3 linked regions of the Homo sapiens genome follow. The protein of the gene in region 2 purifies or fractionates together with the protein of the main gene of each other region. This does not show direct contact. Each region holds a gene or a part of one and is shown on either strand. Other genes may lie near its edges.

What was found.
Region 1: the proteins of STARD6 (region 2) and GSTA4 purify together in Homo sapiens (affinity purification with mass spectrometry; one large-scale study listed by BioGRID and IntAct). This does not show direct contact.
Region 3: the proteins of STARD6 (region 2) and EEPD1 purify together in Homo sapiens (affinity purification with mass spectrometry; one large-scale study listed by BioGRID and IntAct). This does not show direct contact.

Annotation. Positions count from the first base shown.
Region 1 is NC_000006.12:52,985,181-52,988,837, reverse strand, and holds part of GSTA4 (glutathione S-transferase A4), read left to right. Parts: intron 1-1,429; coding exon 1,430-1,481; intron 1,482-3,254; coding exon 3,255-3,387; intron 3,388-3,657. UniProt on the Homo sapiens protein: Conjugation of reduced glutathione to a wide number of exogenous and endogenous hydrophobic electrophiles. This isozyme has a high catalytic efficiency with 4-hydroxyalkenals such as 4-hydroxynonenal (4-HNE).
Region 2 is NC_000018.10:54,323,973-54,326,996, forward strand, and holds the end of STARD6 (stAR-related lipid transfer protein 6), read right to left. Parts: intron 904-3,024; coding exon 720-903; 3' UTR 520-719; downstream 1-519. UniProt on the Homo sapiens protein: May be involved in the intracellular transport of sterols or other lipids. May bind cholesterol or other sterols.
Region 3 is NC_000007.14:36,159,666-36,163,322, reverse strand, and holds part of EEPD1 (endonuclease/exonuclease/phosphatase family domain-containing protein 1), read right to left. Parts: intron 1-3,657.

The sequences.
Region 1 (3,657 bases), on a different chromosome or scaffold from region 2:
ACAATACCATTGTCACCACCAAGAAAATTAACACTGCCTTCACAACATCTAATATGCAATCCATATTCAAATTTTCCGTTTTCCCCCAAATGTCTATATAATGGTTACACGTCTGTTTAGCAGTTATAACAGTTTCCTCTCCTCTGAAATCTACTTCCAATTTGGTTGTTAAGTCTCTAGTTGATTTTCATCAACAGGACCTGACTTTTTTTTCATGCCTTCGACTCTTGAGAAGTCCAGGCCATTATGTTCGTAAGGTCCCACATCCTGAATATACCTGATTTTCACCTTGTGTGTAGATTCAGGGTAAATATTTTTGGTGTTGTTTTAGCAGGTGTGACTGTGCCCTTCTCACTTTGTTAACAACAGAAGCCTCAGGATGTCAGAGTGTTCTCCACTGGGGAGCCAAGTTTGATTGTTTGGTTAGACAGAGGGTGAGAGATCTCCCGATCTCTCCATTATAAATCGACACTTTCCCTTTATCATAATTAAGTAACTTAATTAAGTCTTCTGTAAAAAAGAGCTTTTCCTTCCTCCTACCTTTTTTTTTTTTTAGCATCATCATTTATGGACATAGAGATTTTATTGTTGGGTGTTATAATCCATAATTGACATCATTCTTTTTGATGCTTAAATTTTCCCAGATTTGGTAGGGATTCCCCTTACAGGGCCCTCCATGCCTTTCTCTTTCACATTTGAGCACTTCCTTGCTTTCTGGCATAACAAAATCAACCTTCTCTTATAGGACCCCTAGTTCCTTTTAGGGGGCAGTGATATTTAGAAACCAAGATGTGGATGCTAAGTCTGCTCTTTCTCTCTGCTTCTTAAGACTGTTTAACTTGGCATTTTTTGTCCTGAGCCTGTATGATATTTACCTCCTTTTGGAGGGTGAGGATATCTTTTTAAAAAATTGATGCATAATGTACATATTTGGGGAATACATTTGATATTTTGATACATGTGTATCATGTGTAGTGATCAAATCAGGGTAATTAGGATATCCATCACCCACCTCAAACATTTATCTTTCCTTTATGGCGGAACATTCCAATTCTCTTCTAGCCATTTTGAACTGTGTAATACGTTATTGTTAACTATAGCCTACTGTACTATCGAACACTAGATTTTATTTCTTCTGTCTAGCTGTATTTATGTACCATTAACCAACCTCTTTTCACATCCCATTCCTCTCTACACTTCCCAGCCTCTAGTAAGCACCAATCAACTTTCTATTTCCATGAGATCCACTTTTTTAGCTCCCACATATGAATCAGAACATGCAGTCTTTGTCTTTCTGTGCCTGGCTTATTTCACTTAACGTAATGACCTCTGTTTCTGTTGGTGTTGCTGAAAATGACAGGATTTTGTTTTCTTAATGGCTGAATAATATTCCACTATGTATATATACGTTTCTTTTTTAAAAATTTAGTTTGATGAAGAATTTCTGGAAACAAAAGAACAGTTGTACAAGTTGCAGGATGGTGAGTATGAAAATGAAACAACTGCCTCTAATACTGATTTTCCTTTAAGAGCTGCTGTTTATGTGGAAGGGCAAAAGTATTCAATGACACTGAACATTCAGAACAGTATCCTAAAACCAAAAAAAGCAAGAGGGAATAAATAGTTGAAATTGCCAGGAAATCACTTCTTATTCAATAGTTCCATAAAAGCTGGCCGAAGGGGGTGAGCAGTTCCTTCCACATCCCGGTGAACAGCTCCTCTCCATCCCTTTCTTCTCCCCTCTCCCCTCCAATCTCTTCCTCCCCCTTTCTTTCTCTCCCTTGCCCCTTCCCTCCTTCTCATCTTTCCCTACTTCCTTCACACTATCTGAGGCATCCTGGCCTGCTTGAAGTATGCAAATAAATATCCCCATTTACATGGGGTACTTTCTGAAGTAAATACTACACAGAAGTGAAATCAACGAACTGCCCCCTCCCTTCACCTTTAATTCCTGGTCAGCCCTGCTCCCTCCTTGCCCATCCATTATAGCAGGAGCCACCAGCAGACCCATAAAGAATGCGCCCATCAACCCTGTGAGCAGCCTCCCTCCCAGCCAACAGCAGGGTCCTCAGGCCCAGCTGGAGGCTCCCCTGTGTGGTACCGGCTCTCCAGGGCTGTAAGGCCACCTTTTGTGTGTGACGGTGGCTGGAAGCCACTAGGCATGTGCTAAGTACTCCTCTTGCCTCTCCCCTCACCTGCTCCGAATGCTCAAACCCTCAAGGCCAAGCTGTACCCTATACCGGCATCTCTCCCCAGGGTTTGGTATGTGGAAAGTGTTGGATTCAGGTTTGTTAAATAAAACAATGGGTTGTTTTTTTAACTAGTGACAGCAAACTTGGTAGTAAACGGTCTGTTCTGTGGCTACAGAGTAGCCATAGAGTATACATGAGCCAAAGAGTATACATGAGTCTCAGCTAGTTACTTAGGTTTCATGATCAGATTCTCTAAAAACAGTGCTGTCCAGCAGAACATTCTACAGTGAAGGAATCGTTCTATTCTGCATTGTCCAATATGGTAGCCACTAGGCAAATGTGACTGTTGAGCACATGAAATATGTCTAGTGCAACTTAGGGACTGAATTTTAAGTTTTAAAAATTGTAATTAATTTAAATTTAGATTTACATAGCTGCGTGTAGCTGGTGACTGCTGTATTGGCCAGTGTAGCACTGAAGAAATATCTTCACTACATTCCCCTCAATCCCTTATCACTGTGGATAGGTATTTTTCCTGGGGTGAAAATGAAAAGGGAACGTTTATAACAATGCTAGTTTTCAGCCTTCTTTTTTTTTTCGAGGTAGAGTCTTGCTCTGTTGCCCAGGCGTGCAATGGCGCGATCTTGGCTCATTGCAACCTCCGCCTCCCGGGTTCAAGCAATTCTCCTGTCTCAGCCTCCCAAGTAGCTGGGACAACAGGCATCTGCTACCACACCCGGCTAATTTTTGTATATCTAGTAGAGGCGGGGTTTCACTATGTTGGCCAGGCTGGTCTTGAACTCCTGACCTCATGATCCGCCTGCCTTGGCCTCCCAAAGTGCTGGGATTACAGGCTTGAGCCACCACGCCTGGCCCCTTCAGGCTTCTTTTGTGGCTAAATCTGCTCTCCTGAATGAAGTTAAGGTTATCTGTCATCTGGAAGCTTTACACTATTTCCTAAGGCCATGATTCCACCGTTTCTTTTCATTCCACAGAGCATTTTTTAGGGGTTGGGGGACAGAGAAGAAAAGATCACTTCTAACTCTGGGCTTCCATTCTCAGGTAACCACCTGCTGTTCCAACAAGTGCCCATGGTTGAAATTGACGGGATGAAGTTGGTACAGACCCGAAGCATTCTCCACTACATAGCAGACAAGCACAATCTCTTTGGCAAGAACCTCAAGGAGAGAACCCTGTACTGTGGCCCCTCTCGAGTGTTGTCACTTGTCAGCTTACTGATGCCTTAGCTGATTAGCAACCTCTGTAGCACACCACATTTACTTTATGTCTTACATAGTTAGTGAGATCAGGGAACAAAAACCCAAGAAGGTCACGAAGACCAGTTGGAACTTCAGTAGAGAGAGTCTGAGTAAAACAAAAGAATAGGATTCAGATATTGAATATTATATCTAGGGTGTCATTGTTTCAGATTTCAACATTTTTAAATGCTTTGATACTGCTTTTT
Region 2 (3,024 bases):
TGTGTGTGTGTGTGTGCATGTGTGTGTGTTTCTTTCCCACCTGGGATATGTGGGAGGCAATAAGGAAACCCAGAGAACTCACTGAATGTCATTCCTTAAGTCCCGACGTCCATAGATAGCTTGCTGCATTCTTTCCACCTATGCTTGAGTTTTCCTATGCTTGTTTATTGTGTTATGTGCAGGGTCTTTAAGTTTTAAGAGGAAAGACTTGGGAGGAATGGGCTATTGCATCTTGGCCACACCAGAAATTGTTTGATGACTCATTGCATTTAAAATTCTAAATGTCATTGGTCATACATTTTAGTGGAATTCTTTTCAATTTTTATGTTCATGTTTCCTACAATTGTCAGTTTAAGCAGTAAGTGAAAGAAAAACAATTTAAAATGTATTTTAACTTTTAGTTAATGCTGACCTCTGACTGTATCTGCTTTCTTATTGGTCCTTATACAGAGGATTTTACAGGGACAAAAGCAAAAGATAAAAATATACTAATAACACTTATTTAACATCATTCTTACGTGAGATTAAAAACGGTATTTAATGCCATATTCTTGTACAACTATGAGTTCTTATTTTTATGAACTATCTTCAGCCATGTGTACAAGAATACTGTCTAGAATAGTTTAACAGTATTATTTATGTGCGTTGACTTAGAAGTAAACAGCAATAACTACTACACATGATTTTATAGCAGAACGGCCTCATTTCTTCTTTTGGTATCATGAATGACTATTATGATGAAATCCACGTCTTGATGGAGTTCTGTGTGCCTTTATTCCATCTTTTGCATTGAGGATGAAGTTTACTAAGTTGGAAGGCATGGTTTTTTCAATTATTGATGGGGACAATTTTCCTCTCATTTCTGTCTGGACAAACATCACTAGTTTGGAATATGCTGGGTTTCTGTAAGCAAAAGAAGAGTTAAAAAAAGATAAGAAATTTTTAGATTTAACTACTGACTTTACAGGTTTTTGGAGAGCAGGATTCTTATCTTATTCACCGTTGACATACTTAAAAATTGTACTTAAAAATATTAAGTGGCTAGAATATTTCTTAAAATCTTGAGTTTTAGGCACCATTTCCTTTTTGTCATTTTATTGACTTTAAAAAATTCTAACAGTAATGTATGCTTATTATGAAAATTTAAACAATATAAATTTTTCATAATTAAAGAAAATTTTCCCTCCCTCATTTCCCTTATCCTGTTTCCCAGAGATAATCACTGTTTACAGTTTTAATTGTTATATTTTCGCGTGACTATCTTTCTCTCTCTCTATATATATACACAAAAACAGCATACATTTGTACATAAATGAATATGTTCCCCACATATATAAATATAGTTTTATTTTTTAATGGAGATATTTTTCTGCAACTAGTTTTATTTTTATCTTAATAGGACACTATGAACTTCCTTCTGTGTCTGTACATACAATCTACTTAACTGTTTTTCATGGCTACAGACAGTATTTCATTTTCTATTTAACAGTCCTTTTATTGACTATCATTTAGGTTGTTTCTCACTTTTGGCTACTGTAAGTAAAGCTGCAATAAAATATCTTTGTAATGTATCCATTTATGCTTTTTTTTTTTGAGACAGGGTCTTACTCTGTTGCCCAGGCTGGAGTGCAGTGACGTGATTCTAGTTCACTGCAGCCTCGAACTCCTGAATTTAAGCGATTCTCCAGCCTCAGTCTTCTGAGTGGCTGCGATTACAGGTGTGCCCAATCATGCCTGGCTAGATTTTAAAATTTTTTTAAAGAGACAGGGTCTCATTATGTTGCCAAGGCCAGTCTCAAGCTCCTTGCCTCAAGCGATCCTCCCACTTCGGCCTCCCAAAATGCTGGGATTACAGGTGTGACCCACCTCACCCAGCCCCATTTACACTTTTATAAATACTTATAATTTCTAGGTCAAAGGTTTGTGCATTAAGGTTTTTGACACATTAATTCCAAACTGCACTCTAAGTGGTATTTTATATTCTAGCCCATTGATCTTCACACTGGGGTCAGAAAGGGTGAATACTTTTAAGAGAATAAATTTTCCAATCTCTAACTTCCATATGCATTTTTTCCGTAATCAGATCTGTAAATATGTCTCTGTTGGAGATGTGGGCTTTTTCTTTCCTATCAGCCTGTTCAAAATCGCCCTTCTCTTGCTTTATGCAACAAAGGCATACCTGTTATCCACACTAAGTGGTACTATGGTGCTTTACCTTGGTATATAAAAATCTTTGAGATGCTAAAGGGAAAATCTGATTAGTGGCTAGTTGAGAAAAAATTCTTTTCCAAGTCATGCCATTTTTTTTTTTCAGTAAAACTTAAGGATCTAATTGAGTTGTCAGCTGACAGGTCTTTTTTTTTTTTTTTTTTCTTTTGAGACGGGGTCTCACTCTGTCACCCAGGCTGGAGTGCCGTGGAGTGATCTGGGATCACTGCAAGCCCCGCCTCCCGGGTTCAAACGATTCTCCTGCTTCAGCCTCCCGAGTAGCTGGGACTACAGGCCTGTGCCACCATGCCTGGCTAATTTTTGTATTTTTGGTAGAGATGGGGTTTCACCATGTTGGCCAGGCTGATCTCGAACTCCTGACCTCAGGTGATCCACCCGCCTCAGCCTCCCAAAGTGCTGGGATTACAGGTGTGAGCCACTGTGCTTGGCCAGGTCTTTTTTTAATGATAAACATTTTTTGATGATAGGTTACTACATAATTTATGGTATATAATTCATAAATTTTTTATATAAAAATAAAATAAAAAATATTTTTATATAATTCTCAAATTTTATTTTTATTTATTATTAAATCAAAAATTAATTGAATGACAGTGCTGGAATTATACTCTCTCCATTTCAACACATTTATGTTAATAAATTTTCTTTGATTTTCTTAAAATGAAAGCAGTAGTAGACTTGATATTGAATGCTGTCTTATTTTTCAGTAATATACACCCACAGTTAAATGAAATGAGTGTAATGGTTAAAAGCGTGGACTCAGGAACTAGTCTGCCTTGATTTGAAACTGAGCTT
Region 3 (3,657 bases), on a different chromosome or scaffold from region 2:
AAATGAGTCCTCAAATTAAAACTTTAAAAGATTGGGAATCACTTTGAAAAGGAAAAAAAAAAACCTACCCATAAAACAACACAATAATCTGAAGCCACAGAGGCTGCCCACCAAGAAAGGAAGGAAGGAGCCCTGAGACCACTGGCAGTTAAGACCAAGGCCTAATGTCACCCAAATATTGGCTTTTTCCCATTCAAGAAACATAAACTGCTAAAAAAAAAATTAGACTGAATTTGCTTAACAGAAAATATACTCTAGAGAAGTGTTTTTTTTAAACAGGATATTGGATAGATATTTTTTAAAAAACAACAACCCACCTGAGACCTCCCACTTTTAGCATAAGCTGAAAAAGACAAAGTACTAGTTTTATTCTCCAGTTTTGGGGTGAGCAAACAAGACTTCAGATCCGTAGAACATCCAAAGCATGTGCAACCTTAAATGTGGCAATGGGAACAACGTACTGTCGCTTAAGCACTGCATTTCAGGAGTATACAGCAGCCTCTAGGTAAAACAATTTAAGGCCCAGCTTAACAGCTTAATCAGGTAACGGCTGAACCAAAATAGAATTCACAGGAAACAAGGGCTCGTTGGAAACAAACAACAAATCAATATTAGTTGGGGAATTGTAGTCAGTAAAGAAAATCCAGGTTTTTCTTTTTTTCTTTCTTTTCTTTTTTTTTAAGACAGGGTCTCGCTCTGTGCTCAGGCTGGAGTGCAGTGGCACAATCTCAGCTCACTGCAACCTCCACTTCCCAGGCTCAAGCTAACCTCCCACATCAGCCTCCTGAGTAGCTGGGACTATGGGTGTGCACCACCAACCTTGGGTAATTTTTGTATTTTTTGTAGAGATGGGATTTCACCATGTTGCCCAGGCTAGTCTCGAACTCCTGGGCTCAAGTGATCCACCCACCTTGGCCTCCCAAAGTTGGGATTACAGGTGTGAGCCACCGTGCCCAGCCAACCCAGGCTTTCTTTATTCAAGAGTCTGCAAGAAGGATTCCACACTTCCCTTTATAATGAAATGTTTACTCTGAGCACACCTCTCCAGGGTTCCCAGCCACTTGAGTTCAGCAATTTGGCTGCTGTCAATCAAGACATTACATAAGAACTTTGGCATGTGTACAACACTCATGAGAAGGAGGGTGAGGAAGCTGCTAAGATTCCTAAATATTTGATGAGGACTAACAGCCTGTCAGGTAGAGCAGGACATTTTTGTGGCATTTCCTGGATGTTATGATATGAGAAGTCATCAGTGTGAAATTCTACCCAGGTATAAATTACCACACACAAACCAGGATGTCCATGATGAGCAAATAGAATTTCAGTAAAATCTATCATTTTATTTGTTACTGACACTGATTGTTATTAGGGAATTCTGGGATAAAATCCTTTGTAAGGTAGAGTAATTTTTTTTTTTTTTTTTTTGAGAGAGACAGGGTCTCACTCTGTCACTGAGGCTGGAGAACAATGGCATGATCACAGTTCACCACAACCTTGAATTTCTGGGCCTTCTGAGTAGCTGGGACTACAGGCACGCACTACCCCACTCAGCTAATTTTTAAAGTTTCTGTAGCAATAGGGTCTTGCTATGTTTCCCAGGCTGGGGAAGGTCATTTTGAAATTAAAATGACACACACCTTCCTGCTTATAAGCTTGGCATTTGTATACCGGATTCTCTCACTGTGAGGAGCCTTGTGTGGGAGGCTGCCATGTTCCTGTCTGAGTATTTTGGATCATAAGCCTCAGTGGAGGGCCCGGACCTCCCCCTCCTCAGCCGTGTGTGTGCATGGGGGAGGGTGGATGCTGACTTTCAGCCTCAATTGTCACTATGCCACTACACTCCTTCCTCTCAGACTCCAACCACCCATCCACCTGACTTGGTCCTTTCCCTTCATCCCTGACCGAATGCTGAGGTCTCACATACCTGCAGAGCCAAGCAGACAGCGACCAAGTCCCTGTGCTCTCAGGTCTCTTAGCAAGCTTCACATCCTCCCTCATCCCACACATCATCCTGGAAATACCTGCTGAATGTGTATGTCCTTGAGACGGTGAGCCCCCGACCACAAAGTGGGGTCTTCCTGCGCCCATGCCTCTGACCTCATCAGGTAGTAAGCACAAAGTAGCTGCTCAATGTTGAACTGAATGTATGCGAACCTCTCCTGATAGAAATAGTCACCTAAAGTCCCCAGAGCAAGCCCTGGGTCCATTTGTCATTGATGCTGAAGAGAATATGTGGCCTTGTCAGATGCCCCATCTGCTGAGGGCAGACCATGGCCTCATACTCCATCTGCTATGGACCTAAGTAAGACCCCACACCCAGGACACAGCTGTGGCTGAGGGGAAGGGTAAGGTGAACACCTTGCATCATGTTAAAATAATACAGAGGCATGTGTGTCAGCCCCAGGATTTCTTATTATATATGCCTCTGCACCTATCTCATAGAAACCTCAGAGCATTTCAAACAAGCTACCTGCTGAATCTCACACTATCCACAATATAGGCAAGTCTTGCCAGTTTTTACCTCTAAAAGGCTTCTCATCTCTGCCCACTTCCCCATCTCCCCAGAGATCATTGCCTTTAGCTTGAATCCTGCAACAGCTTCTTCACTCAACTCCCAGGACCCTCTCCATGCACGCCCCGCCCCCCACCACCTCCCAGCAGTCAGACTATCTGGTAAGAGGTCATTTCTTCAGCCTCTGCTTCTAACCTTCTGTGGCCTCCTCCTGCTGTTACAAGAAGTCTTGAAGGCCCCACCTGATCTGGCCTGGCCTTGCTCTGCGGCCCCACCCACCCGCCACTCTAGAACTCTGGCCTTCTGTCTGGAGCCAGCACTCTCAGGGCCTCTGCACTTGCCAATTCCTCCATGGAGCATTCTTTTCCCTGGCTTCTTCCGTGCCTGGCTTCTTCTCATCCATCAGCTTTCAGCTGAGGCATTCTTTGACCCCCATCTAAATAGGCTTCTCTTCACCTCACCTCCATCACCCTCAGCATGCACCACTATCTGTAATGATTGATGTGTGTGTTGACCTGTTTGTCTTTCCTCCTAGAACAGAAGTTCCATGAGTGCAGGGACTTTGTCTTGTTCTCCACTTTATTACCAGAGCCTGATACAGAACCTGGTACCTAGTGAGAGCTCCAAACAGATCTGCTAACTGAATGAATGAATGGATGGATGGGTGAATGAGTGAGTAAGAAAGGAATGGATAGCCCCTGGGAAAATCAACACCATCAAACTCCCAAAGAACCTTGGAATCAGACCCAAAATGGGCCCAGCTTCCTTGTAAAACAAAAGTCACACCTTTCCCTTTAGTGAGATAAACCCTAAGTTCTGCCTACATTGGAAGTTCCCTGCATTCACACTGTCTTCTCTTACAAATCCACAACACTCTTACTACCGACCATCTTTCTATTTAGAAACACCTTAGAGTTCCTTGGCTCAGAAAACTGGAACTTGATCTTGGAGTCAGGCCCAAGGTCACAGACTCACACTTGAGGGGCTGGGTGGAGGAGCCCTGACGCCTTTTGGATTGGCTCTACCTCTGGCCTCAAGCCCCATCCTTTAGAGGAACAAAAACGGGAAAAAACAGAGGCCCCCAGAGGCCTGACACAATCTCAGGGTTGTAGGGAAGCCCTCCTTTTCCCCAAGACCCTGATACC